Homo sapiens: one gene and its partners. The protein of the gene in region 2 purifies or fractionates together with the protein of the main gene of each other region. This does not show direct contact. Each region holds a gene or a part of one and is shown on either strand. Other genes may lie near its edges.

The links.
Region 1: the proteins of CPEB1 (region 2) and SYMPK purify together in Homo sapiens (affinity purification with mass spectrometry; 4 studies listed by BioGRID and IntAct, with this or other methods). This does not show direct contact.
Region 3: the proteins of CPEB1 (region 2) and GAN purify together in Homo sapiens (affinity purification with mass spectrometry; 2 studies listed by BioGRID and IntAct, with this or other methods). This does not show direct contact.
Region 4: the proteins of CPEB1 (region 2) and GBP5 purify together in Homo sapiens (affinity purification with mass spectrometry; 2 studies listed by BioGRID and IntAct, with this or other methods). This does not show direct contact.

Annotation. Positions count from the first base shown.
Region 1 is NC_000019.10:45,853,130-45,860,150, forward strand, and holds part of SYMPK (symplekin), read right to left. Parts: intron 1,379-7,021; 5' UTR 1,367-1,378; coding exon 1,262-1,366; intron 1,112-1,261; coding exon 1,046-1,111; intron 1-1,045. UniProt on the Homo sapiens protein: Scaffold protein that functions as a component of a multimolecular complex involved in histone mRNA 3'-end processing. Specific component of the tight junction (TJ) plaque, but might not be an exclusively junctional component. May have a house-keeping rule.
Region 2 is NC_000015.10:82,546,362-82,553,382, reverse strand, and holds part of CPEB1 (cytoplasmic polyadenylation element-binding protein 1), read left to right. Parts: intron 1-766; coding exon 767-903; intron 904-3,724; coding exon 3,725-3,923; intron 3,924-6,145; coding exon 6,146-6,240; intron 6,241-6,861; coding exon 6,862-6,942; intron 6,943-7,021.
Region 3 is NC_000016.10:81,309,969-81,317,964, forward strand, and holds the start of GAN (gigaxonin), read left to right. Parts: upstream 1-4,993; 5' UTR 4,994-5,145; coding exon 5,146-5,312; intron 5,313-7,996. UniProt on the Homo sapiens protein: Probable cytoskeletal component that directly or indirectly plays an important role in neurofilament architecture.
Region 4 is NC_000001.11:89,269,844-89,277,547, forward strand, and holds the start of GBP5 (guanylate-binding protein 5), read right to left. Parts: upstream 3,018-7,704; 5' UTR 2,609-3,017; intron 1,020-2,608; 5' UTR 912-1,019; intron 1-911.

The DNA of each region.
Region 1 (7,021 bases), on a different chromosome or scaffold from region 2:
GGGGAGGCACCAGGTGCATCCACTCCACCTCGGAGGTGGGGCTACTCCACAAGGCTACAGGCTGATGAAGGAGCCGAACGGGTTCTCACACAGGAATGCTAACCCTGCCAGTCTCTGAACTCCAACTGCCTCCTGCTCTGAACCATGCCCAGCCCAAGTGTCCCATGTCGTCTTCTGCCTTTGCACACACTTCTGTGCCCTCAGCTTGACATGCTCTCCCTCTCTTGGCTGGGCACGGTGGCTCGTGCCTGTAATCCCAGCAGTTTGCGGGGGCCAAGGAGGGTGGACCACTTGAGCTCACGAGTTTGAGACCAGCCTGGTCAACATGGTGAAACGCGTCTCTACTAAAAATACAAAAATTAGCCAGGCATGGTGGCAGGTGCCTGTAATCTCAGCTACTCAAGAGGCTGAGGCAGGAGTTGCAGTGAGAGCCAGGATCGTGCCATGGCACTCCAGCCTGGGCAACAGAGCAAGACTCTGCCTCAAAAAAAAAAAAAAAAGAGATGCTCTGCCTCTCTCATTTGGTACACTTCTCTCCTTTTATCCTCCATGGCTTGGTTCAAAAGTCCTCCCTGACTCCCCATCCCTAGGCTGGGTCAGGAGCTCCCTCTGGGCTCCCAGAGCCCCCCTGGGCTCCCTTCTCCATCCCAGCCCTGCCCACACTGGGTCATCATTGCCTGGTGACAGGAATGTCTGCCCCACTGGACTGGACACTGGCAGAGAAGAAATGCAATGATGAAGAGTGTAGGATTTGGAGCTGGAATCCAGGATTCAATTACTAGTTCAGCCAGCTCCCAGCAGAGTGACCCTGGGCTAATAATTTAAGCCCCGGGGTCTGCTTCTTTCTGTATAAAACAGGGATGAAACTACCCTGCCTTACAGAGCTTTCATGAGAACTAGAAGAGCAGAGGCCTGCACTGAGCACTGTGGCCGGCACACACTGAGTGTGTAAATGTGGACACTGGTGTTACTGCAAGTGTCTTTCTCAGGTTCCCAGCCTCCTCCCTTTCACCTGCTCAGCCCAGGATGCCCCCCGGGCCCTCACCTGTTTGAGCACTGTGATCTTTGAGTCATTGGTGATCAGCGCCGCCTGGTTCAGAAGATCCACCACCTGGAAGGAGGGGGAGTGGCAGGGGATAGTGCCAGCCCAGTCCAGCCCAGTGCAGCCCCCTCGGCACTCCCAGGGCTCTGCCACCTAAACAGGGATTGCCAAAGCCAGGGGCTATGCTTCCTCACTCCAAGCCCTACCCGCCACGCTCACCCTCTCTGAGGTGGTCATGCCATCGATGCCCGGCCCCTCCTCTTGAGTGAAAAACTGTGATGCCACGCTCCGACGGGTGACGCTGTCTCCACTGCCGCTCGCCATGGCTGCTGTCAGCTTGTCCCCAGGAAAGAAGAGGATGGATCAAGCTCAGGGAACCAGCGGATGGGCTGGGCTGGATTGTCACCCGAACACCTACAAAGGGCCCAAGCCTCCTTCCCAGGCTGTTCCTCCCCAGTCAGGCCTTCTCAAGTCCCTCTCCCCTCCAGGGTCTGTCTCTGGCTTATGGATATGTGCACGGGGCCTGTAACTTGGGGGAGACTGACATCTCCCAAGGCAGAGCCAGAAGTCTCAGCCTCAAGTGGGCCAACCACAAACAGCTGCTGAACGATGGGCCACATGAACGTGCAACAGCCACCTTGCAGGTCTCCGTGTGTCCCCTCTCTCCATCTGGGATATGCTTTGGACTGGGCACCACAGCAAACTTTCTTTTTTTTTTTTTTTTGAGATGAAGTCTTGCTCTGTCACCCAGGTTGGAGTGTGGTGGTGCGATCTCAGCTCACTGCAACCTCTGCCTCCCAGGTTCAAGTGATTCTCCTGCCTCAGCCTCCCAAGTAACTGGGATTACGGGCACATGCCACCATGCCCAGCTAATTTTTGTATTTTCAGTAGAGACAGGGTTTCACCATGTTGGCCAGGCTGGTGTCAAACTCCTGACCTCAGGTGTTCCACCTGCCTCGGCCTCCCAAAGTGCAGGGATTACAGGCGTGAACCACAGTGCCTGGCCCAGAGTAAACTTTTAAAAACACAGCTCTGAGGAATATCAGGCACAGAGTCCGGCACATAGTAGGCACTCAATACATCACAAAAGGCCTGCTTCAATAATTATGTTTCAGCCACTCTCTGGAATATCATGAAGCTGTTTTTAAAAGGGAGGAAGGGGGCTTTCAGGCATCCATCACAGTCACACAGGCAAAATTATGGAATGATTAACGTAGCAGTATATGTCAATTACACAACTATTCATAATAGCAAAAGACTAGAAGCAACTCAAGTGTTCTCAAATAGGGAGACTGGCTGAAAAAAAGTTCATACATAATCAAAGGCCATGGGGCTTCAACACCTGTGAAAGTAAGTGAAAAACATATAAATATAAATAAAGGAAAAAGACTATGGAACTGTAACAAGAAAGGAAGAAAAAAACAAAAAAATGAGAACAATCTCTAGACACTGATAGAGAGTGCATACATTAAGTGAAAACAAGCAAAGCTGAAGACAGTGTTGACTGTATGTTTCTGTTTTACAAAAAAAAAAGAAAAATGAGGCCAGGTGCAGTGGCTCATGCCTGTACTCCCAACACTTTGGGAGGCTGAGGCAGGCAGATCGCTTGAGCCTAGGAGTCGGAGAGCAGCCTGGGCAACATGGTGTAACCCTATCTCTACAGAAAATATAAAAATTAGCTGGGCATGGTGGCGTGCCTGGTAGTCCCAGCTACTCAGGGAGGTGAAGGCAGAGGCTGTAGTGAGCCAAGATCGGGCCACTGCCCTCCAGCCTGGGCAGCAGAGTGAGAACTTGACTCAAAAAAAAGAAAGGGGAAAAAATATATATGTTAAAAAAGGAAAAAAATCTGAAAGGATAAACCAAAAACCAGCAGAGGAAACAGGGTAAAAAAAATTGGTGAAGCCGGGCGCGGTGGCTCACGCCTGTAATCCCAACACTTTGGGAGGCCGAAACGGGTGGATCGTCTGAGGTTAGGAGTTTGAGACCAGCCTGGCCAACATGGTGAAACCCCATCTCTAGTAAAAATACAACAGTTAGCTGAGCCTATAATCCCAGCTACTCAGGAGGCTGAGGCAGAAGAATCGCTTGAACCCAGGAGGCGGAGGTTGCAGTGAGCCGAGATCATGCCACTGCACTCCAGTCTGGGACATAAAGACAGACTCCATCTCAAAAAAAAAAGGTGAATCTCAGTATATTATCCTGAAAAGAGGTCCCTGACAGCCTGTTGCATCAGAGGACAATACATGCAGTTCAAGCCATTTTTGTCAAGTATGTGTTTATGTATACGCAGAATGACCTGAGGCAAGACATTTAACTTCTCTGGCTCTCAGTTTCCTCTTCTAGGAAACAGGGATAGTAACAGGGCTTACCTCCCAAGACTATTTTGAGGATTAAATGAGTTAGTATATACAGTAAACATTGGCTAAGTATACTATTATTTTTATGTACATGGGAAAAGATCTGAAGGCTACTGCATAAACTGCTAACAACAATTATGATAATTAATAATAATTTGGCCAGCTCACGCCTGTAATCCCAGGATTTTGGGAGGCTAAGGTGGGAGGATCAATTGAGCTCAGGAGGTGGAGGATGCAGTGAGCTGTGATCCCTACCACTGCATTCCAGCCTGCGGACAGAGCAACACCCTGTCTCAGAAACAAACAGGCCAGGTGCAGTGGCTCACATCTGTAATCCCAGCACCTTGGGAGGCTGAGGTAGGCAGAACACCTGAGGTCAGGAGTTCGAGACCAGACTGGCCAACATGGAGAAACACTGTTCCCTACTAAAAACATACAAATTAGACAGGCATGGTGGCGCATACCTATAATCCCACCTACTTGGGAGGCTGAGGTGGGAGAATCACTTGAACCTGGGAGGCAGAGGCTGCAGTGAGCTGAGATCACGCCACTGCACTCCAGCCTGGACGAGAATGAGACTGTCTTAAAAACAAAACAAGGCTGGGTGCGGTGGCTCACACGTGTAATCCCAGCACTTTGGGAGGCCAAGGCGGACGGATCACGGAGGTCAGGAGATCGAGACCATCCTGGCTAACAAGGTGAAACCCCGTCTCTTCTAAAAATACAAAAAAATATGCCGGGCATGGTGGCGGGCGCCTGTATTCCCAGCTACTCGGGAGGCTGAGGCAGGAGAATGGCATGAACCCGGGAAGCGGAACTTGCAGTGAGCTGAGATCACAACACTGTACTCGAGCCTGGGCGACAGAGTGAGACTCTGTCTCAAAAAAAAAAAAAAAAAAAAAAAAACACACACTAAACAAACAAACATGCCAAAAAAACAATAATCTGAGGACGGTGAAAATGATACTTTTTTCTTTTTTTGAGATGGAGTCTTGCACTGTCGCCCAGGCTGGAGTGCAGTGGCGTGATCGTGGCTCACTGCAAGCTCCGCCTCCTGGGTTCACACCATTCTCCTGCCTCAGCCTCCCCAGTAGCTGGGACTACAGGCGCCTGCCACCACGCCCGGCTAATTTTTTGTATTTTTAGTAGAGACGGGGTTTCACCATGTTAGCCAGGATGGTCTCGATCTCCTGACCTCGTGATCCGCCCGCCTTGGCCTCCCAAAGTGCTGGGATTACAGGCGTGAGCCACCGCAACCAGCCGAAAATACTTTTTTTTTTTTTTTTTTAGATGGAATTTCACTCTTGTTTCCCAGGCTGGAGTGTAATGGCACAATCTCAGCTCACCGCAACCTCCACCCTCCCAGGTTCAAGCAATTCTCCTGCCTCATCTCCCAAGTAGCTGGGATTACAGGTATGTGCCACCACATCCAGCTAATTTTTGTATTTTTAGTAGAGACGAAGTTTTACCATGTTGGTCAGGCTGGTCTCGAACTCCTGACCTCAGGTGATCTGCCCACCTTGGCCTCCCAAATTGCTGGGATTACAGGTGTGAGCCACAGCGCCCAGCCGAAAATGACACGTTTTTTAAAAGGAACTACCCAATAGCTATTCACAGTAGTATCACATGATAGGGGTCTCCTCAATGAATGACGAGCCACAGCCTCCTCCCTAGTTTCCCTGCTGCCTGTCACCCCCTATCTTGCTCAGGGTCAGGGCCAATGTCCCCATCAAGGCCTACAAGATTTTATGGCATCTGGCCTGTTCTTCCTCTGACTGCCTCTCCCCCTGGGCTCTTTGCTCCACCCACTCTGGCCTCCTCGCTGTCCTGTGAACATGCCCAACATGCCCCTTCCTCAAAGACTTTGTGCCTCTCTTCCGTCTGCCTGGAATATTCCTCCTCCTAGATATCAGCACAACTCCTTCCCTCTTCATTTCCTTCAGGTCTCCACTCACATGTCTCTGCAGTAAGGTCTTCCCTGACGACTATGTTTCTTTTTTTTTTGAGACGGAGTTTCCCTCTTATTGCCCAGGCTGGAGTGCAATGGCGTGATCTCAGCTCACAGCAACCTCTGCCTCCCAAGTTCAAGCGATTCTCCTGCCTCAGCCTCCCTAGTAGCTGGGATTACAGGCATGTGCCACCACGCCTGGCTAATTTTGTATTTTTAGTAGAGACGGGGTTTCTCCATGTTGGTCAGGCTGATCTCGAACTCCCGACCTCAGGTGATTCGCCCGCCTTGGCCTCCCAAAGTGCTGGGATTACAGGCATGAGCCACCGCGCCCGGCCGACGACCATATTTCAAATTTTAACTTCCTCTCGATCCCCATCTGTGTTGCTTTTTCTCCATAGCATTTATCATCATCACACACTACATATTTATAAGTTCCACGAGGACAGTGATTTATTTATTTGAAATCATTTTTTGGTAGAAGCAGAGTTTCGCCATGTTGCCCAGGCTGGTCTTGAACTCCTGCACTCAAGCAATCCACCCTCCTTGGCCTCCCAAAGTGCTTGGGATCACAAGTCTCAGCCATCGCCCCCGGCCTAGAACAGGGATTTTGTTCCTTCACTTTTTATATTCCCAGCACGGAAGAGTGCTTGGCACCTAGCAGGAGCTCAATAAACATCTGCTGAATGAGTGAACACTACTGCCAAACGGCCTCCCCAATCACTGGGTTCAGTATTCCTGCCCTTTCACTCTTGAATCCTAATAGCTATACTTGTTCTACTTTTTCCCCCTTTCTCACTACTGCACTTGACAAGTCTTTAAAAAAAAAAAAAAAAAAGGGCATGGTGTGGTGGCTCACTCCTGTAATCCCAGCACTTTGGGAGGCCAAAGTGGACAGATCACTTGAGGCCAGGAGTTCAAGACCAGCCTGGCCAACATGGCAAAACCCAGTCTCTGCTAAAAATACAAAAAAATTACTTGGGCATGGAGATGGATGCCTGTAATCCCAGCTACTTGGGAGGCTGAGGCATGAGAATTACCTGAGCCTGGGAGGCAGACGTTGCAGCGAGCCGAGATTGCGCCACTGCACTCCAGCCTGGATGACAGAGCAAGACTCTGTCTCAAAAATAAAACAAAACAAAAACAAAGAAAGGAAAGAAAACAAAAATAGGACGGGTATAGTGGCTCACAATTGTAAACCCAGCATTTTGGTAGGTCTAGGTGGGAGGATGGCTTGAGGCCAGGAGTTCAGGACTAGCCTAGGCCTAAAAACTAAAAAAGAAGGCCAGGTGCAGGGGTTCATGCCTATAATCCCAACATTTTGGGAGGCTGAAGCAGGAAGAGTACTTGAGGCCAGGAGTTTGAAACCAGCCTGGGCAACACAGCGACACACCATCTCTAGACATATGCACAATTAGCTGGGCATCGATATCATGCCACTGCTCTCCAGCCTGGGAGACACGGTAAGACTCCATCTAAAAAAAAAAAAAAAAAAAAAAAAAAATTAGCCAGGCATGGTGCCATGAACCTTTAGTCCCAGCTACTCTGGAGGCTAAGGTGGGAGGATTGTTTGAGCCTGGTTGTAGTGAAGTATGATTGGGCCACCGTAGTCCAACCTGGGCAACAGAGCATGAACCTGATGAACCTGTTTCCAAAAAAAAAAAAGAAAAAATA
Region 2 (7,021 bases):
TGTCACAGCTGCATGTTGGTAACATGGTGGGCACTCCAGGGCACAGACCTGCCATCTGTCAGCACTTTCTCTTCAACCTAACATGTCCCTCTGTTTCTTCTGAGCTAATGTTCCATCTGTCCAGACTTACACAGCAGTGGGAGTTGCCTCTGAAACCCCTTCCTTGTACACTTCTCTCTAAACCTGAACCCAAGCAGCACCTTTCCTCTCAAAATAAGGCGTTTGAAAAGCTTTCCCTTGCCTGCCTGTCCTGCCCAGTTACGTTGTTGCCTGACCTAATTCTGAAGTCCCTTTGGAGTTGGCAGGAATGAGGACCAAGCATCTGATTCCTCACTGGTCTGAAATGAGATCCCTTCCCTGTAGAAAGGAGCAGGTGCTATTTTCACCCTGCCCCATCTTCATTGAACTGAACTAATGGTTTAAGTAGGTGTTTAAAGCAATACCTGCCATCTTTCCTGCCACCAGGAAAGCCTGGCTCTGCTGACCTGAACATGCTCTGTGTTCTTGCATAGAGAGCTGTGGTAATGGTGGGATCCTCTGTCTCAGCTTGCCAGTCCTTTCCTTCACCAGGGTGGGAGGGAGGCCCACAACCCAGGGCATCTGCATAGCAAATGCTTCCACTCAACACGACTTTTCAGGAGTAAAACAAAAATGTATCTTATACACAAGACCTTCTTTCTTGGAAGAAACGCCCTGCTGCAAAGCCAAGGCTGAGGAGTGGCCACCTAAGGGATATTAATGCGATTTTTCCTCTCATTGGGAATAGGGTATGTGTATCTGGTCTTCGAACTAGAGAAGTCTGTCCGATCCTTGCTTCAGGCTTGCTCTCATGACCCGCTGAGCCCAGATGGCCTGAGTGAATATTATTTCAAGATGTCCAGCCGAAGGATGCGCTGCAAGGAGGTGAGTTAGCGTGATGTCCTTTCTGGATCGAGGGTCTTGGAATATTGAGGCACTGGATTTTCTTGTGGTAGGTGGATAGGCAGGCTGCAGGCAAGGAGTATTCCTGCTGAGGCAAGAAGGCTCTTCTTGTCCCACAATAAAATAGCAGTATCCTCTCAATTACATTAAAAAAAAAAAAAAGCAACCTTTGGGACTTAATGGGGTGTGTGCATGCACACATGCGCATGCCTGCCCATGGTAATCAAACTGTCTGCCCGTCTTTATTCTGCTCTTCTTTCTTGTAGCCAACACTTTGGTTTCAAACCTCTTGTCTTAGAAATGAAATTGAGAACAGCAAACTTCTCTACTTGGACTTAACTGATAAACCTACAGCTGTTTTTCCCTGGTCCTGCCCTTCCTGTGCCTTGTGACCTCCCAGTCTGTGGGGGTGAATTCCTCTTTAGCCCACACCCACCTGTGGGTCACTTCTTCATTCTTATTCAGGGCTTTATTTAGTTTTGTGGGTTTTCCCCATAAGATTCTCTCTTCCTACGCTTTTTCTAATATCAGCCTTATGTATCCTTGGCAGCATGGGTCTCTAACGAGTTTATCTCACCTGGGGATCTCATTGCACATTCTTGGGCCTTATCCCAGACTTACTGAATCACTCTGGGTGGAATTTAGGAATCTCCAACTGAATAAAGATCCCCAGGTGGTTCTAGTGGGTAGTGTTTGAGAACCACTTGTCAAAGCAAGTTTTGAGCTCAGGAATCAGTGCGGTGGTAAAATCGGATTTGAGAGCACACAACTTTTGTGACATTGGACTAGATATTTAATATCTCTGAAACTTTGTTTCCTCTTCTCTTCTATAAGATGGGAAACTAAAATGCCTATTTTAGTAAAAAAGATCAGTGGTTGCCAGGGGTTTAGCAGGAAGGGATGAAGAGACATAGCACAGAGGATTTTTAGGGCAGTGAAACTATTCTGTATATGGTGGATACATGTCATTATACTTTGGTCCAAACCCATAGAAGGTAAAAGAAACACCAGGAGTGAACTCTGATGCAAACCATGGACTTTCGGTGGGGATGATGGGTCAGTATAAAAAAATGTTCCACTCTCATGCGGGATCCTGATAGTGGGGAAGTCACGCAAGTGTGGGGGCAGAGAGTATTTGGAGAATCCCTGTACTTTCTGCTCAGATTTACTGTAAACCTTAAAGCTTCTCTAAAAAAATCTATAGGGTAAGAGGAGAAATGCCTATTTTATTGGGATGGTCACATTAGATTTAAAATAAATCCATGTAACAAAGCTGGCTCTTGTTCTGTGTTAGAGAGAGGGCAGGCTCATCCTCTGGCTGCCCACAGTGACCCACAGCTTCCCTACCTTCTCTGCTTCTTTATTCTCTGGAGCTTGTGTAGTCTTCCCACCTTAGTATGTTCTAGGACTTAATTAACATGCTCCTTTTTCCTCCCCTCCTGCTTTCACAACCAGAGATGGCCATATGCATATCACAGAGCCCTTCCCCTTCCTCCTCAGTGCCCCTGTAGACACCATCCTGTCTCCCATTCCCTCCCATCACCTTACAGGGATTTAATCTTTCTTTGATTCACTGGCTATAGGCTGATGCAGTTCTCCTTCCTCTCTACTTTTCTTTTTCCTTTGTGTTCCTCTCCCCGCCAGCACCAACATAGCCAATATAGCCAATCTTTGACTCCCTTCTTCTTTTCTAGTTCAGATAAATGACTCACTTTGTGGCTTCTCTCACCTTTAGACCCAGATTCACCTTTCTAGCCTCATGTCCTACCTGAGCCTCACCTTCCTGTGGGATCCTTCTTCGGGATGTCCTGTAATCCCAAACTCTTTTGTGGGCAAAATTGGCTTTTTCATCTTCCAGTGAAATTGGCTCCCCTCTTGTAACTTCTGCCAGGTCCTCTCATCCCAAGACCGTGTAGGCCCAGCACCTACCAGGCCTGATTCTTCCTTGCTTGCCCATCCTGCTTATGCTGTCTGAGTACTGCAGACTCTTCTGTTGAAGAATCTCTTTGGTCTTGGCCTGTTCTCTGCTCGTTGCCACCAGCCTTGTCCAAGTCTTAATCACCTGTCCTTTGAAACTACTGTTTTTGCCTCCTTGCTGGTTTCTGCCTCAGATCTCTTCCTGCTTCAAGACATATTTTTAGATCTTCACTTCATTCTGGACTCCTCCACCTGCTCTACAAGGTTTTGTTCCAGGTTCAGGAGATTCAGAGGCAAAGGACATGGTCAGCCCCAGCCCTTTAAGACTCCAGGGATCTTGTATGTGACTTTCTACCCAACCTCTCGCCAGTCATTTCCACTGCTCTGGCACAAACCCTCTGAAGGCTAGGTTGGGCCAGTAACCATCTCATACAAATATCGTAAGCACTCCCACCCCTCTGTCCTTCAGGATCCTAGCCTTTAATTTCTCTGTGAGTCCTTCCTTTCTTGAGGACTTCAGATTATGCCCTTTTCATCAGTGTCCACAGCCCTTTGTTGGAACTACACAGTTGGAGGTTGAAATAGAATGCTGGGCTCCTGGGTTTGGCCATGTGGTACTTTTTTGCTTACTCTCCAGCATGAGTGAGTACTGTGTCCACTTCTACCATTCTGGACACATGGACTCAGTAAAATTCAACTCCAGTTGGGGTGGAGTCAGGGTGGTTTATTGGACGCCTGTGTGCCTGAGATTGGGCAACAGCACCTTTTCACCCCTGTAAGGGCGTTAGCTTAGCTTCAGTATCTCCAGAGCACGTACCTTGCCGTGCAAGCACCTCTCTCTCTGTGGCTCTCTGCCAGGGCTGATACACCTTTGGGTGGTTTTCAGGTGCAGGTGATCCCCTGGGTATTAGCCGACAGTAACTTTGTCCGGAGCCCATCTCAGAGGCTTGACCCCAGCAGGACGGTGTTTGTCGGTGCTCTGCATGGAATGCTAAATGCTGAGGCCCTGGCAGCCATCTTGAACGACCTATTTGGTGGAGTGGTGTATGCCGGGATTGACACAGATAAGCACAAGTATCCCATTGGTAAGTGTCCCACTTCTGTGTGCGAAAGCTTGGTTGGCCCCTGGGAGTAGACCAAGATTGTGATACTTCCCCATGGGAGTGAGGAGAGAGGCCTGACCCAGGTCTGCAGATCAGCATATACCAGCACCATAATATCTTTTTCTAGACAAGTCACGAGTACTGGCCCTTCTGTATCTAGCCCTCTACCCACCATCTCCCACGCAGTGGGAGAAAAAGCTATTGGAGACTACAGGAGGTGATAAGAAGTGAGAGTGAGGTAGGAACTTTGTTGGAAGCTCAGAGTTCACAGCGAAACCAGTTTGGAACAGACAACAGGTACTATTTCATGAAAAGGCTGCAATTCTCTGAACTTGCCTGGAGTTTTTTATTAAAAGTTCTTGAAAAGCTCTGGCATTGTCTAAGGTCAGAGACCAGGTCAGGCTGGAGGAGGACTTTCTGAGTGAGTCAGGCAACAGAGTGTGGCCTGTGCTTTCCTAACTCAGAAGTCTGTGGGCCTAACCACTAGGTTTTGATCAGCTCCTCTGAGAAAGGAGGTCAATTCGCCAGTCCTGGCAAAATGTCAATGATGAGGTATGGAGGTGGAGCAGAGCCTGACCTCTGTGATTAACATGTGGCTAACCCACCTCCCCAAATGCTTAGTCTTCACACCCACACTGAATCTGGTCAGGAAGGAGCACCATGTACTCACCAATACTGTGCAGCAGATTGAGAACAGGGACTTCAGAAGCCCCAGGAGCGGAGGAGGAACTTGGCAGGATGGGGCTTCTTCCAGCTCTCTTAATAGGTCTCCAGAGTGCCTAAGGGCTAGGAGAGGTTCAGTTCAACTGCTGGGCTTACCCTTCAGACAAGTGTTCTATCTGCATCTTGGCTTCCACTCTGAATCCTTTAACCTTAACCTATGCTCTACCTGCACTGAAGGAGTCCCTTATCTTTCCTTCCCATCTTGATCTGCAAATTCTTCCCCCATTCCTGAATGGTTCACGCTAACATGATCTCCACTGTCAAATATGGTACGAATATGGTAGCTACCAGCTAAATGTGGCCCCATTGAGTTTTGGAAACACAGCTGTTGTCACATTTGGAAATAATATTATTAACATATAGGGTTAAATAAAATTTTTTTTTTGAGATGGAGTCTCACTCTGTTGCCGTGCTGGAGTGCAGTGGTGCTATCTCAGCTCACTGCAACCTCTGCCTCCTGGGTTCAAGTGATTCTCCTGCCTCAGCCTCCTGAGTAGCTGGGACTACAGGTGTGCGCCACCACGCTCAGCTAATTTTTGTATTTTTAGTAGAGACGGGGTTTCACCATGTTAGCCAGGATGGTCTCCATCTCTTGACCTCATGATCCGCCCACCTTGGCCTCCCAAAGCACTGGGTTTACAGGTGTGAGCCACCGTGCCCGGCCAATAAAATATATTATTAAAATTAATGTCACCACTGTTTTAAAATTTCAGTGTGACTACTAGAAAATTTAAAGTTACATAAGGGCTGACCATGATGGCTTATACCTATAATCCTGGCACTTTGGGAGGCCGAGGTGGGGCAGATCGTTTGAGTCCAGGAGTTCAAGACCAGCCTGGACAATATGGTGAAACCCTGTCTCTACAAAAAAATACAAAAATTAGCCAGGCATGGTGGCTCATGCTTGTAGTCCCAGCTACTTGGGAGGCTGAGGCAGGAGATTGTTTGAGCCTGGGATGCAGAGGTTGCAGTGAGCTGAGATCACGCCATTACACTCCAGCCTGAGTGACAGAGGGAGACCCTGTCTCAAAAAATAAATAAAGTTACATAGTAGCTCACATTATATTTCTGTCGGACAGCACTAGTATCGTAAAGGGTTTCCTGCATTTTAAAAGAGTAGCATTAGGGCAGGCTCGGTGGCTCACGCCTGTAATCCCAGCACTTTGGGAGGCTGAGGCGGGCGGGTCACAAGGTCAGGAGATCAAGACCATGCTGGCTAATGGTGAAACCCGATCTCTACTAAAAATACAAAAAATTAGCTGGGTGTGGTGGCAGATGCCTGTAGTCCCAGCTACTCGGGAGGCTGAGGCAGGAGAATGGCGTGAAACCGGGAGGCAGAGCTTGCAGTGAGCAGAGATTGCGCCACTGCACACCAGCCTGGGCGAAAGAGCGAGACTCCATCTCAAAAAAAAAAAAAAAAAAAAAAAAAGTAGCATTTGGGAGAATTTGGTTAGAAGGGAAGCTTGTGTCTGTTGTCCTAGGTTCTGGTCGTGTGACTTTCAATAACCAACGGAGTTACCTGAAAGCAGTCAGCGCTGCTTTTGTGGAGATCAAAACCACCAAGTTCACAAAGAAGGTGAGTTGGCTGGTTTATGCCCTTACTCTGGGGTATATGAGAGGGGTTTGGGCAGTTACTACCCAGGGCAGGCCTGAGACCTGAAGCTGTTTGTGCTGGGTGTGTTTAGGGAAGTGAGCCAAATTCCTGAGAATTAACATTGAGGTTAGGGTTTGGGAGTGGGCTTGGTCTTTGTACGCCCAGGAGGAAGGGAACTGGGACTGTTGAGCCTCTTCAGTGTGTAGGGTGCCTTCCCTCACTGTGGTATTTCTTTGGCATTGCTCAGTAGCCTGACTTCCTATTTTCCAACCTTTTGGGAATCCTCCGAACACTTGCCTATACTGCTAATTGATAGAGGGCTGAGGTACAGTTTGCCTAGAAGACCAGGCATTAAGGTGTGTGGTTGCCTGAATCCCAGAGGCATCCAGCCTGACTGTGCATGGTGTATGAGTCTGTCCTCTAGAACTCCTTTCTGTACTTCAGGCCCATAATTCTCTCCAAGCCTCCTTTAAAACAGGCAAATATCCTGCATTCCAATATCCCGCATTCCTGTGTGTGGCCAATAATGTGCCCTTCTTCTATCGCCTATCGAGCCTCCTGGTAAGAAGAGCCACTTCATCATCTTATTTTGCCTTTGTGCAGGTTCAGATTGACCCCTACCTAGAAGATTCTCTGTGTCATATCTGCAGTTCTCAGCCTGGTCCTTTCTTCTGTCGAGATCAGGTGGGTCCGATGTCTATGAAGTCCCTGCCCTCTATTAAAAATTGTTGGCTGGGCGCGGTGGTTCACACCTGTAATCCCA
Region 3 (7,996 bases), on a different chromosome or scaffold from region 2:
AAATAACATGTGAAGTAATCCCTTGTAAACAGAAAAATCTCAATTCTATTAGAATTTATTCCTTCAGCAAATATTTATTGGGCACCTACTGTGTGTCAGGCACTGTACTGGGTGCTGGGGTAGAATACATGATGAATTTGGATAGGAACAGTTACGACCTTCATGGAGTTTCATTACAATTTAATTAGTTCACCGGTTTCTGAGACACTTCTCTGAGTACTGTGTAAATATATAGAACCAACTCTGAAGCGTTATAAATACTGAGATGTTCTCTGACTCAGCAATTTGAAAGAGCCTAGACTTTTTTTTGGAAAGAAAACAGCTATATATAGATTTGGACAAATGAAAGATTTACCCAATAAAATATCTGAAGACTACCTTAAAATGAATCAGAAGAGACTGTCTCAAACAAATGAATGTTTATGACAAGTCGACTTGGTGTAATGGAAAAGCTTACAGGGCTGGAAAGCAGAAGATCTAGACCTTAGTCTGTTCTGCCCTGACTGGGTCACACCTATAACCTTGACTGAGTCATTTGCTCATCTGTACTTTGGTTTTCTCTTCAATAAGATAAATCCGTTGGACTTGATATTTGCTAAAGAATTTTCAAACTGTTAATATTTTCTTTGCATTATTTCTCTTACTGGACTCTCTAAGTAGTTTTTAGGAAATAAAAGCCCAACCCCCCAAGTGGATTCCTCTCTTGAGGGCACATTTTTCAAAGCAAAAGAAAGCTTTTTTTTCCCTTTTTGCAAAAAGACATTGCTTTCTTGTTTTTTTAATGATTGTAAAAAATTATGCATGATCAGTACAGAAAATAGAAATCGAGGAAAATACAGAGTAAAAGCTTCTATAATAACACTGAGACAACTATACTTTCACCATCACTGTATCTGTAGCAGGTATCGTACAGCAGGTGCTTTAAAAACAGTTGTTGAATGAATGATTACTGTTAATATCTTGCAAACATCCTTTTTGGTCTTCAGACCAAAAACGAATACATAAATAAATCCTTTCTCTGGGTTGTTTCACCTCTAAACCAGAAGAGCTCAGTAAAGCCACCAGAGACTAAAGCTGTTAGGACAATATCAAATCTCTTACATTGTAATATGTTTCACAATGACAGTTGATATCTGATGCCTATGGAATATAAGGAAACAATAACATTTAATCCATCATTCTGATAGGCACAATATCAAGGGTGGCTCAGTTTGAGCAATATCAAGAAGGCTGCAAAACAGTCCACAGTACTTCAGCTCAAGCAAGAGTGGCTCCGGCAGCACTGGGAGAGTTGGCTCTGCCTCCTGAATCCTTCTTCCCACACTTGGGCCCTCTTCCTTGCCCACAGCACCAGGAGGAGCTTTCTGGGGCATGTGAATTCCACTCAACACATTTTATTGGCAACCTAGCAGCCATTTGATTGTCGACTACATTTTCAGTAAACTAATCGTTTCCTGATTACCTCTGAACATGAATTACAGCCAGATCTTGTCTGTAGACCCATGCTACATTTTTTCCTCCAAATGGAATTAGTTGCTAATGTTGAAAATCCGGAATATTCAACATGTAAAGTCTGAATTGTCAGAATCTCTTAAAAAGTTGTTAGATCCACCACCACTGGGCCCCTATCGCACAGAGCAATCAATCAGAGCTGAGGAGCATGTGCTCTTCAGCTCCCATAAGCCCACCTACTCCTATTGTCTGACATCCCACATCCCACAGTTTGCTTTGCTAATTTACCTGATACGCTCCTGCTAATTATGTAAAACATTCATGGGGTACCTACTACACATCAGGCACTGTGTAAGTCCTGGGAACATAGGCAGATAAGGCAAAGCCCCTGCCTTGGAGGAGCTCACAACCCAGCAGTGGAAATGACTTACAAACCAGTAAATTACAGTACAGTATGGTGAGTACAGCACAGCAGCAGGAGCATGCAGAGGACTGACCCACTCTGTCCTGGGAAGCCAGCTCAAGATTTCCTGAAGGCCATGGTTAAGCTGGGTTTTGAAGGATGAATAAGAGTTCACCAGGCCAATGGAGTGGTGGGGAATACTAGCAACAGTGTGGGTGGTATTAAAAATATATATAAAGTCTTCTTCTGCTTAGCTGCCTGTTGCACAGATGATCCTCTCAAGCCAGCAACTACCTTTCTCTTGATGGTCATTCCATTTCCTCCTTCTATCAAAACAACAGGGAAGGTTCACCTTTATCTGGAAGAGCCTGCCTGACAAATCCCCATTCACCTCCAGTTACTTCAACTAAGGCAACCTTCCTACTCGGATAATTGGTTACCTGACTGTGATCCTACTATTGGAGCTCTTTGTTTTGGAACCTCTGATATTTAAAGAATAGACTAGCACAATAAGCAATTAATAAGTACTTATCAAATATTTACATTGTGTAGAGAACTCTCCCTGGTTTTTGACTTTAAAAATGGCAAACACAAATTAACTAAGAACAGATAGAGAATACAGTTCAGAAAACATTTATTTATTTTATTTTTTATTTTTTTTGAGACAGAGTCTTGCTCTGTCACCCAGGCTGGAGTGCAATGGCGTGATCTCGGCTCACTGCAACCTCTGCCTCCCGGGCTCAAGTGATTCTCCTGCCTCAGCCTCCTGAGCAGTGGGGATTACAGGTGCCTGCCACCACACCTAGCTAATTTTTGTATTTTTAGTAGAGACGGCGTTTTACCATGTTGGCCAGGCTGGTCTCGAACTTCTGACCTCGTGATCCGCCCATCTCGGCCTCCCAAGAAACATTTATTAAGTGTCTGATATTCAGGTGTTTTTCTTTTTTTTAATCCCTCCATCCATCCAACATTCAGTTAGCACTATTACGCACCAAGTACTGTGCTTGGTACCTGGAAATCATGCTGAGCTACAATAAACATAGTATAGCAGGTGACATGGATAAATAAACCCATTATAAAAAGTTTCTTGCTCGAGCAATGTTCAAAATACAGCAACTGCTTGGAGAAAGGAATGTCAGCTGCTCACAGGGATACTGGGTAGGTATCATGGAGAAGATAAGTCCAAGCTGCTTGTCTTGTGTGTTTCTTACCTTTTTAAATATATTTTTCGGCCGGGTGTGGTGGCTTATGCCTGTAATTCCAGTACTTTGGGAAGCCAAGGTGGGCGGATCACAAGGTCAGGAGTTCGATACCAGCCTGGCCAACATGGTAAAACCCCATCTCTACTAAAGATGCAAAAGTTAGCCAGGCATGGTGGCACATGCCTGTAGTCCCAGCTACTTGGGAGGCTGAGGCAGGAGAACCACTTGAACCCGGGAGGCGGAGGTTGCAGTGAACAGAGATTGCACAACTGCACTCCAGCCTGGGCAATAGAGGGAGACTCCATCTCAAAAAAAAAAAAGAAAGAAGAAAATATTTTTCAACATCCACAAAAATATAGAAACAGTACAATGAATCTCCACATCCCCATTAAACATCCACAACAATATAGAGACAGTACAACGAATCTCCACATCCCCATTACGTGGCTTTAACAATTAGTAACTTGCGGCCACTTTTGACTCATCTACACTCCCATCTGCTTCCCCATCCCTTTGTTTTGTTTTGAAGCAAATCCTAGACATCTTTATCATTGCATCCGGGAACACTGAGCTGCATTTACAGAAGAAAGTGGAAATGCATGTGTCTTCCACAGCCGTACCCTCCCCATCTATTCTGCCCTGAAAACAGTTAGATACTCGGATTCCTGCCAGTGACTCCAAAGCCTTGGCTGGTTCAGGGTAAATACCCAAGACTTTATTGGAGCCTTTCAGTTGGTTGAAGGACAGTGAAAATTCCATCCTGTCTTGCCTGGAATGCTAGCCACATTCTTCTGGTCCGGAGTCCTCATACAATTGCTAATTTTTTAGAGGCTTATGGAGTCCCTAACGTTTGCACAAAATGGTTGCTACATTCCACACTCCCATGTGCCCTGAGCAACCTCCAGGGAAACTTCAGATACCGTGGGGCTTGGCCTGCCAGCTGAGCTGACCCAGCGATCCTTTCTATCACAGCTTTGATCTTCACTGGGTTGGGAGCCTGTCTGAATCTAAACATCTGCCTCTCTACTGCCCACCCCTTCAGCATTTCCTAGCTCTCCCTGAAAGGTGCAAACATGCATGCAGTTACTCAAACAGAATATTTATCCTTAACTCCCTCTCCCTCACAATTTCTTTTAAAACAATCCACTATTGTCTACCCCCGCCCCCGCATCACCCTTTCATCCAGGTGCCCATTCCCTTCTCTCTAGTCCTGCAATACCTAAGCATCGATCTGCCTTTAGCACATCCATCCCCGCCTTATTCTCCACGCAGGAGCTGAGTGACCTGCACAAAATCCCCTGCTAAATACGGTACTTCCATGGTTCTTCACCACTGCAGAAACCAAACTCCTTCCCACACCAAGGAGGCCCTGCAAAATTTAAGGCCTCCTTCGGACTTCTCCAGCTTCATCTGCTACATCTCCTTCCTAGCCCGCAACCAAAACCATCTTTTCCGGGTCTGTTTTCTCGGGTTTTTGTCCTCTCACCTGGGCAGCTCCTTTTCTCTCATAAATAAAGAAAGCTACAGCGACTTCGCCCTTGCTTCCATGCATCATCTCATGAGTCCACAACAACACTAAGAATTCGCTTTCATTTTGCAGACGGAGAAACTGAGGATGGGCACCTTACCCATGGCCACAGAGCTAGTAAGTGGAACAGCTGCAACCAGGATTCAAACTCGCGGCTCCAGAGGCCACAGGCTTAACCACGGAATCCTAGCCCGCCCGCACATCCCTCCATCGCGGGAGCGACCTATCTCATCCGTAGACACCTTCCGCTGCACCCAGCCGCAGCTGGTCAGGCGGGCGGAGGAAGGAGGCTTCTGATTGGCCATCTCCAGCAGCGGAGGCGAGAAGGCGGGGAGCGACGGTGCGGGGGCGTCGCGGAGAAATGACTTCATGACGCGGCTTCTTAAAGGCGCCGGCCCAGCGCGCCGCGGATAGCACAGGCACGTCCCGGGGGCTCCAGCTTCTGCTCAGAGCGCGGAGAGCCGGGCCGGGCGGGCGCGCGCGCAGGACTCGGGCCGCTCGAGGGGTCCGGCCGGACGGTGTCGGGAGCCGGACCCGTCGGCAGAGGAGCGGGCGCCGCGATGGCTGAGGGCAGTGCCGTGTCTGACCCTCAGCACGCCGCGCGTCTGCTGCGAGCGCTCAGCTCTTTCCGCGAGGAGTCTCGCTTCTGCGACGCGCACCTGGTCCTCGACGGGGAGGAGATCCCGGTGCAGAAGAACATCCTGGCGGCGGCCAGCCCGTACATCAGGTGGGGAGGGGGCTACGGCGGGCGGGCGCGGCGGTGCTGCCCGGAGCCGGAGGCGGGGCGGCCGGGCCGGGCGTGGCCCCCAGACCCTGTCCCCTGTCCCCGGCGCCGGGGTCCCCGCGTCACCGTTGGCGCGGCGTCCCTCCCGGCAAGCGCCGGAACCCGGCCCCGCTGACCGCGTCCCCCAGGCGGCCTCTGTGGCTTCCAGGCCCGCGCTCCCCACTGGACCCCCGCGCCCCTTGGAGTTGTCCCCGGACCCGGGCCGCGATCCCCCGCCTTGTCCCTCCCGGTTCCCACCGCCGCGGCGAGCGCCCGACCTCGGAGACCCTGAGGCCCCCAGACGCCGTCCTGGGCCGGCCGGGACCCGCACCTGCGGGCTGGGCGAGGCCGCGCCGGGGAAGAGTCACCCCCTCGCCCAGGCCGGGCCCGCGGTCCCCGCTGAAGTTCGCCAGTCGCTCGCCTCTGAATCCACGCGCGGGGGCTGGGCCGGCGCCGCCAACCAGGCGGGGAGCGCCCTGCCCGCTGGGAGGCCAGACAGACAGCGCCTCGCTGGGTGCAGGCAGAGAAAACCCTCTCGATGTTCTCCTTGGGTTGGTAGTCCGAACCTCCGGGCGAAATTCTCCTTGCCAAACGTGTCTTTTCCGCTCCATTCTGGTAACTGTTTAAAAGAGGAGTTACACGTTGAAGTAAACTGTAGCGAATTCTCAGGATGCTGTTACAACCCGAGGACCGTGAGAGCCTTGCGACAAAGGGCATTTTAATACTTTAGTAAAGCAAAGCTTAACCTGATTTGCCAACTCAACTAACCAGGTTAATTAAAAGGTTGATAAGACAGTGCTTATACAAGTGTATCAGATCTTGCAGGAGACTATCTTTTCTTTTAGCAACCTTCTTGCAAACTAGGTTGCTGTTTTAATAAAAGGAAAGGGGGGAATGCTAAAAACTGGAGAAACTGACCAGTAAGCTGGTTAAATATAAGCTAGTGGTAGAGAATATCACTACAATTGACAGGTCAGAAAAAGCAAAATGATGTGTATTCTTAGCGCTTTGTCCCAGCAAAACCACCACGCACGCTACACTTTTAACCTTTGCATTGGGGAGATATCTGTGCTAAACTTAGAAGAAATTCAAGTGCCCTTGTAACTTCTGGTTTCTCTTGGATTTGTTTTGTGAATCCATTTGCGCTCTTTGGCGGTGGGGAGTGTGGAGGGGTGGGGGGGCGGGGCGGCAGTAGGGTCTGGGGTAGCATCGTTAGTACAGAATTTGGATTGCTAATGTGACAGACAGCTTCTAGCTGGCAGTTCCGAGGTTTGAGCAACCCATCCCAAATTGGAGTCAGCAGACCAAAGTCTTCCCTGTTTGGGAAAATGCTGAAGAAAACTACTTTAGATGCATTATTGTTATAGTTCTTTAAATGGCATCCGTTTGGCTTAAAAGAAGTAAATTGCAAATTGCCGAATCCTTGCTTGTTATCCTTGTTCGTTTTTCTCCATAGCACTTACCACTTTGACGTACCCCATATTTTACACATTTACTTTGGTGGTCTTTCCCAACCACAGTGTGACCTCAATGAGGTCGTGGTGTTTTGTTTTGTTTTTCGAGACTGAGTTTCACTCTTTAGCCCAGGCTAGAGTGCAGTGGCGTGATCTCGGCCCACTGCAACCTCCGCCTTCCAGTTTCAAGCGATTCTCCTGCCTCAGCCTCCCGAGTAGCTGGGATTACAAACGCCCGCCACCACGCCCGGATAATTTTTGTATTTTTAGTAGAGTCGGGGTTTTACCATGTTGGCCAGGCTGGTCTCGAACTCCTCACCTCGTGATCCGCCCACCTCGGCCTCCCAAAGTGCTGGGATTACAGGCGTGAGCCGTGGCACCCGGCGGTGTTTTCTTTTATTCACTGCTTTACTCTTTGCACCCAGAAAGAACTGTGCCTATCAGTTAATGTATTGAATGAATGACTGCCTTTCTTTCTACCACAGCAAATGTGTACATTAGAAAATTGGCACCATCACATTTTCATAGTACACAGACGCTCAGTTATACCTAATTGAGAAACGCACTGGATTCAGAGTTTGAAGACCCGCTTTGTGCTTCCAGCTTTTACTCATATTAGCTGTGAGTTGCTGGTAGATGACAAGGCTTCAGCTCACTAATCTGATGAATGAGGGATAAAAATGAGTCTTCTCATTTAATCACACCTGTGAAGAAATACGTAATAGTGTTGACACCTCATAGGTCTGTTCCCATGTCTTCAAAGGTAGTACCCATTGAATTAGGAAATATCTGTAGTCCGGTTCTTTCACTTTCTAAATAAGAAAATAGGGGCTCAGTGGACATTAGTGACTTGTGTTATGAGGTTATTAGTACTTAATGGTTGAACTAGGATTAGACTCCAAATTAATTACGGCTAACCGCCTTCCTACTCTTGCCCTACCACGTTAGAGCATTACTTGTATTTCACCGTTCTCTTTGTGTAAACTTTACTGTTAGCTGGCTTACAATATCTTAGAATTAAAATGTTTATCAAGCACTTTTACATACTGTGTCATTTTGGTTTCCATTTTCAATCATCTTTAAAGAGAAGGCAGATTTTTTTTTTTTATGTTTTGTGGATAAACATGAATCAGTCAATATGTGTTTCATCAGTGACAGATGAATTGCTTTAAGTTTATTTGGCTATTGAAGTGA
Region 4 (7,704 bases), on a different chromosome or scaffold from region 2:
GTCTAACCTACTAGTTTGAATCTAACTCTTATTCCATTGGTTTTTGGCTTAGTTATGTTTTTTAGTTTTTACCTCCCTGGGTTCCTATATTAATTCTTTATGATGTTCTTTATTAATATATTACACTGTTCCTTTTACTTTGTGTCAACTTCATTTTTTTCAGTTAGATCTATGTCCAGTCAAACTGCATTACATTAAATACTACCAAGTCATTATGCAGCATTATCTAACAAATCATAGCTGTTTGCTTCTTAGTGATATACTTGAAATTTTTTACATAGTTACTAATGTGCTTTATTAAACCAAAACTTCAAAGCATGATTATTTTATGATTGACTGAATGAGTAAAACAACTTCCTTTAATAATACTTAACCTATTTTTTTCTAACTTCTGAGCATCAATCCCTATAACCTAAAGAGTCTCTGGTTAAAAAAAATGTTTGAGCTATATGAGAAAAAGCAAATGCCATAAAAATATGCTTTTCTACTTTGCCTTATCATAAAGGATAGTTTTCTTCCATTTTAAAGGTGGTTATTTACTAAGGATGCTAAAACTTCACTATCCGCTTGACGAGTTCTTTCACTAAAATCTTACAATGAAAAGGTTTGGATTCTCCATCTCTTTACTAGCAAATTTCAAAAACTGTCATTTTACAATTATGAAGACCCATTCTCCCTGCTTCCTCATAGCTAATGCCCTGGAAATCATTATGTTGACATAAATTAAAACAGAAACTGCTTGGCAGCAGAAAATAGGATATCCATTTGCAAATGGTGTAGCACTAGGACATGGGAGTCAGGAAATGCCTAGTGCAAGCCTGACCCAGAAAGAGGCAATTTTGCAACAAATTTAGAGACTCAAATGGCAGGTCTCTTCTCATTCTAATCTATTTTCAATGTAGTATTAGTACCTTATATATGTAGAATTCTGGTTGCCTGATTTGTATGCAGCGGAGGCCAGAATAATTTTTCCACTAGAAAGATATGGGCACCTTGAAGTGATGATCTACAACAATTAGCTAGAAAAACAAAAGATACATAAGCCAAATCTATAAGCAGATATTGAGAGCTTACAAGATCTTATGATTTGGGATGATGTCACTAAGGAAGAGGGAATGAATGTGTCTGAGTGTTCAGACTCTCTTATGAATGACAATAGCATTGTATATCTACATTAATAATAGTATTTGACATGTTGTCCCCAATGTCATCTGGATAGCATCTTTAATGCTTTTAGTAAAGCCAAATTTCTAAAACATTATTGCAGATTTAATGTGTTCAAGCCACAAACATAACTGTTGCTCTGTTATTCATAACTTAGTGTTCTGGGATGCATTCTCCCTAACTGCTTGAGCCCTATAACCTTTGCAAATAAAAACAATGCAAGAATGGTTCAAAATACACACACAAAATGCACATTTTGCCCTTGCCTTAAATTAGACTTGATTTCCAACCCCAGCCCTACAACTGGCTATCTGTATCTCTCTGGCATTTCACTCAATTCTTTCAGCTTGTTTTCTAAAAAAGCAAAAGTAAATAAACAACTATTTATTAACATCAGTATAACTGCTGGCTTATGAAAGAGAGTGAGCGAGCTGCAGGAGATTTTAAAAAGTGCAAAGAAGGAAAATGCCCAAAAAAAAATACTAAGAGAAAATGCTCAGAAGTGGTAGTGGAAGGATTTCTGAAAGAAAACATCTGTTTTCAGCCATATGATTCTAGTTTGGGTTTTGCGCCTGCATTTGTATATGTAGTTGTTATTGCTTGCTTTTGCTTATTTTGCATAGTTTCTGGTTTGAATTTCAAGGAAAAGGAAAAGGCTCTTATTAAGGATATAAATGGAAATCAAACTAGTACAAAATGCTTGAAGTATGTGTCATGGTAAGAAATTCAAAGGAGAGAATTTCAACGAGTGAACAGTTGCCAGACAGTATTGAGGGATCCAGTTGGGCAACTGTTAAATTAGGTGATTCATAATAGTAAAGGCAATAGAGTAGTAGAAGCAGAACCCAACACAAAAGGGGTTAGTTAAGTGAGTAGATGCCAAGAAACCAACATGAATTAAGTCAGGGCTATTGCTAAAGGAAGAAATCTACTTTCAAACAAAGTACAAGACTATGACTAAAAATACATCACTGTTTTCATGAAACTTCTCTCTGGGCAACATTTTTTTCTTGTCCTTAATGTTTGCAAGCTACTTACATTGCATCATATTCATTGTTCTTTCTCATGAAAATAATAGCTATCATAGTTTTTGAAACTTTCATGCTGAAGTTCGAGTCAGTTTAATCAGATTTTATGAAGGACGAAGGTAACTTAAGTGGAAATTATGATCCTGAATAAGTCATAAAATTGCAAAGGAAGAAAAATAATTTGAAGGCATTTCAAACTCTTAGTTTAGTCACCACACACATTGATGTCTAATTCAGCAAGAGGCAGACACAGCTGGTACTTGATGAATTCTGCTGCCTGTCTGATAAGAATACAATTTATTCTTTACTGAGGTCTGATATACCACATCAGGATAAGCTGCATCCTATCCTTTGTAGAATGTTTCTAAAACCAAATGAATCTTGCAAATCTCTTCCACCTCTTGCCCCAGTCTTACCGTGTCCGGAATTGGTGGGTTCTTGGTCTCACTGACTTCAAGAATGAAGCCGCGGACCCTAGCGTTGAGTGTCACGGTTCTTAAAGGTGGCGTGTCAGGAGTTTGCTCCTTCTGATGTTCGGATGTGTTTGGAGTTTCTTCCTTCTGGTGGGTTCGTGGTCTGGCTGGCTCAGGAGTGAAGCTGCAGACCTTCGCGGTGAGTGTTACAGCTCTTAAGGCTGCGCGTCTGGAGTTGTTTGTTCCTCCTGGTGGGTTCGTGGTCTCGCTGGCTTCAGGAGTGAAGCTGCAGACATTCCCAGTGAGTGTTACAGCTCATAAAGGCAGTGTGGACCCAAAGAGTGAGCAGCAGCAAGATTTATTGCAAAGAGTGAAAGAACAAAGGTTCCACAGCCTGGAGGGTGACCTCAGTGGGTTGCCACTGCTGGCTACTTCTCTTATCTGGCCCCACCCACATCCTGCTGATGGGTCCATTTTACAGAGAGCCGATTGGTCCATTTTACAGAGAGCTGATTGGTCTGTTTTGACAGGGTGCTGATTGGTGTGTTTACAATCCCTGAGCTGGACACAAAAGTTCTTCATGTCCCCACTAGATTAGCTAGATACAGAGTGTGGATTGGCCTATTTACAAACCTTGAGCTAGATACAGAGTGCTGATTGGTGCATTTACAAACCTTGAGGTAGATACAGAGTGCTGATTGGTGCATTTACAATCCCTTAGCTAGACATAAAGATTCTCCAAGTCCCCACCAGATTAAATAGATACAGAGTGCTGATTGGTGTATTTACAATCCCTTAGCTAGACATAAAGATTCTCCAAGTTCCCACTAGACTCAAGAGCCCAGCTGGCTTCACCCAGTGGATCTTGCACCGGGCGGCAGGTGGAGCTGCCTGCCAGTCCTGCTCCATGCACTGGCACTCCTCGGTCCTTGGGCCATGGATGGGACAGGGTGCTGTGGAGCAGGGGTCAGCACAGGTTGGGGAGGCTCAGGCAGCACAGGAACCCATGGCGGGGTGAGGTGGGGAGCGGGAGAGGGGAGGAGGCTCAGGCATGGCAGGCTGCAGGTCCCCAGCCCTGCCCCACCGGGAGGCAGCTAAGGCCCTGCAAGAAGTGGAGCACAGCAGCTGCTGGCCCAGGTGCTAAGCCCCTCACTGCCTGGGGCCGCTCCGAGTGCAGGTCCCTCAGAGCCCAAGCCCACCCAGAACTCGCGCTGGCCCTCAAGCACCGGGCGCAGCCCCAGTTCCCACCCCTGCCTCTCCCTCCACACCTCCCAGCAAGCTGAGGGAGCCAGCTCCGGCCTCGGCCAGCCCAGGAAGGGGCTCCCACAGTGCAGCGGAGGGCTGAAGGGCTCCTCAAGTGCCGCCAGAGTGGGTGCCCAGGCAGAGGAGGCACCGAGAGCGAGGGAGGGCTGCAAGGGCTGCCAGCACGCCGTCACCTCTCATTACCTTGATTATAAAATCGGGAGAAGAGGTATTTTAGAGCTAGTAAGAAAACTGCTTCCATGAGGGACTGGGCACGGTGGCTCACGCCTGTAATCCCAGCATGTTGGGTGGCCGAGGCGGGTGGATGACGAGGTCAGGAGATCTAGACCATCCTGGCTAACACGATGAAACCCCGTCTCTACTAAAAATATACAAAAAATTACCTGGGCATGGTGGCGGGCGCCTGTGGTCCCAGCTACTCGGGAGGCTGAGGCAGGAGAATGGCTTGAACCTGGGAGGCGGAGCTTGCAGTGAGCCGAGACTGCACCACTGCACTTCAGCCTGGGTGACAGAGCGAGACTCTGTCTCAAAAAAAAAAAAAAAAAGAAAAGAAAAGAAAAAAGAAAGCTGCTTCGATGAGAACTTGCTGAGTTCGAACTCTCGTCTTTTACTTTCACTGTGGTGATTTCTCATTTATTTTCTTCACTCAGTCCTGGGGTTTTTGTTCTTCCCACCCCATTTTCCCTGCTCGAAAAAGGAGACAATTTGAATACAAAATATGGAATAACAGAAAGGGGGATTTTTGAAAGTTCTCTGTAGGAAATAGAAACCAAAAAGGAAATTCAGTGACTAAGCCAGATGACAAAGGGAATTGCCCAACTGTTACCTAGTGTAGATAGGCTGGATGTATTTGACCTGACTTCTTTGAAACTGCATGTTTCCTAGAAACTGCAGAGAATCCTTTCAGTGCCAGCCATACTCCTCCCTGCTTCCATTGTTGTTGTTACTAGAAGAGAAATTTGAGATCTTTCACAGTTGTTCAAAGTATGTGGTATTTCAAACCTAGCTTGAAATACGTTGACATTCATCTCCAGTTTGGGAGTAGGCCAGGGGAAGAGCTCATATGATTTTTGAGGTCTATTGTTGTGAAATGTTAGAGCTGCTCACACAGGACTAAGTTTATTACTTTCGCAGTAGGTTCAGTAGCTGAGAACTTTAACTCACAGGCAAGGACAAAGTTTTTGGCACTTAGTACATGATGAATGATAACAAGGATATTATTTATTAGACATTTGTAATGCCCTGGACAGGTTTCACTACTTTGTGTGGATTATTCTATTTTAATTCTCCCAACAAATGCTTTCTCCCAATTTTACAAAAGCTAAGACACAGGGAGATTTAGTAACTTGCCCAAAATCACAGAGCTACTAATAAATGGATCTTAAGACTGAAACCCAAGCACTTTATTGTAGTCCTTTTGTGTTTGTTGAGTGAATCATCATAATAATCATCATTATTATTGTCCCTTTTTAATAAATGGATTCTAAGATCTGGACACTAAATATCTCATATTATCCTGGTTTCAATCCTACAAGACAATTTTTTTTCTATCTTTATTTTACAATGAACAGAGTGGCTGTTAGGCAGTATTTTTGGAGCTTTAGTTCCTAGACAAGGATTTGTGAGCAAGGGATATTTATTTTGAAGGTGCTCATAAGAAACGGGGTAGGACAGTGGGAAAGTGAAAACTGGAACGGAATGAAGCCAGTGACTGGGAACATATCTAGCAGGTTTTGTTGTGGGAACCAGGAGTTAGATCTCCTCAGGTAACTCTAGGAAACAATGTAAAATCTGCCTCCAATTTCCCTCTTGGGTGGGTTAGAAACCTGGGGTACTTTTCTTCCAACTTCCTTTCATTTCTGGATAAAGACTGGTCCTGAAAGCATAACCCCCTTGCACTCCTGACCTGGCCCACGTGTGGGCTGAGAAAAAATGCTTAGATGAAGGATCTCTGATGTTTGCAGTGAGATGCCATTGGAATGTGCAAGGTTGAGTGATAAAGGGAGATGGCCTTCACAGATGTTGTGGGTATCCCATCCATATTGCCCCTATCTTATGCAAAGATCAACCTTTCCTTAATGGCTTCTTCAATTTTGTGGCTGGTCGTTAGTTTAAATATATATATATACACACACACACACACACACACAATAGGAAAGTCTAAGCTATAGTCCTCTTTGCTGCAACTGATTTTGTGATCCTAACTGATATTCAAGATCTTCTCCTCTATTACCCATTCTAGGTTTTGCTCATACTTGATCAGGAGTTCTCCTTGTCTAGGTTGCCTTCTCAGTGGAGAGAAACATTTCTTCATTTCTGAGAAACCAGAAGACCTATTTCTGTGCTTTAATAAGGCTGTAGTTACTTCCAGTGCATCTTAACAGGCCATGCAAGCACCAAGAGTATCCCAGGGAATCCTTTGAGTGCCAGCCATACTCCTCCCTGCTTCCATTATGTACTATTTCCTCACAGAAACCATAATCATTTAAGCTTGCCAGTAGATCAATCCTTTTAATTGCCTGCTGGCTTGTCTACAAACATGAAATTCATAAAATGACCAGGTGGCAGCTATAGTTTCAGATTTAGTAGAACTTTACTATGACCCCTGGTAGAAAAACTGCTTAACTTCACCCTGAGAACTGGCCCTCTAGTCCAGCAGACTAGACAATGGATCACAAATTCACAAATAATTCAACGGAGAATACTCCTACTTTAACGCTTTGGTTCCCAGGCTCATATATTCCAGCTAGCATATAATATCCTTTAGTTATCCAATTATATACTGCATATTGAATGACAGTCCCCAACCCCACAATGGTCTCTACTGGCCATTCCAGTTTTGTTAGGCTGGCAGCTTTTAGATGATGTATAAGGACTAGTGGATTCCATGGTTACATTCGCATTGTTGTGCCTCTTTACTGTAAAGTAAAACTTTCAAAACTTTCTCTAAGCTGATGTTTAGTAGGATTTTAGGACATTTAAACAGACACTGCAAGTCCTCGAATAGGTGCTGGCTGAACCACTCTCAACAGGGGAATATCCATACCCAGAATTTATGTCAATTTCAGTAAAAAAAAAAAAAAATCACAGACTCCTCCAAGGTGCAAAAGGACTGATTTGATCACCTTGACATCTAGTGGTCTGGTTGGTCTTCTTGAAGGGTGGTATTATACTGAAGGCTCAGTGTCAATTTTTGTTGTCTTTGGGCCAATATTTAACGTGTAGTGAGATTGGCCTTGGTGAGAGGAAGCCCAGGTTGATGGGTCCATGCAAAGATTTCATCCCTGCTACCGTATCTGTTCTGTGCAAACACTAGGTAGCTGAGGATAAAGCCTGGCTCAAATCTACTGGATAAGTCATTTTAGCCACCTGGTTTGTTCAGTGTCTCTCTAAAACCTATATACTCTGGTTGACATTGACTTAAGACATAAAGATCCACACACTTTATGCACTTATTCCTATAGATTTACCTACAGACCTGTTTATTTCTGATCCTACAATTGTGCCAAGGCCAACTACATAAACCATTCTCCACTGCTCAAGATTCTGTATATAGCCTTACTTCAGGCCACTTCTTCCTTTACACAAAATTGCTTACCTGTTAACTGTTTAAAATCTGTCCACAGAGAACATTTCACAACAATATTTTTGGGGGCCATCCCTAGCTGCAGCAGCAATGTATTTCAATTTGGTTTCTATAAATAATAGACATTGGAGACTACAGAAGATGGGTAGGTAGAAGTGGGGAGAGGGTTGAAAAGTTACCTATTAGGTACGATGTTCACTATATGGGTGATGGATACAGTAAAAGCCAAGATTCCACTGCTATACAATAC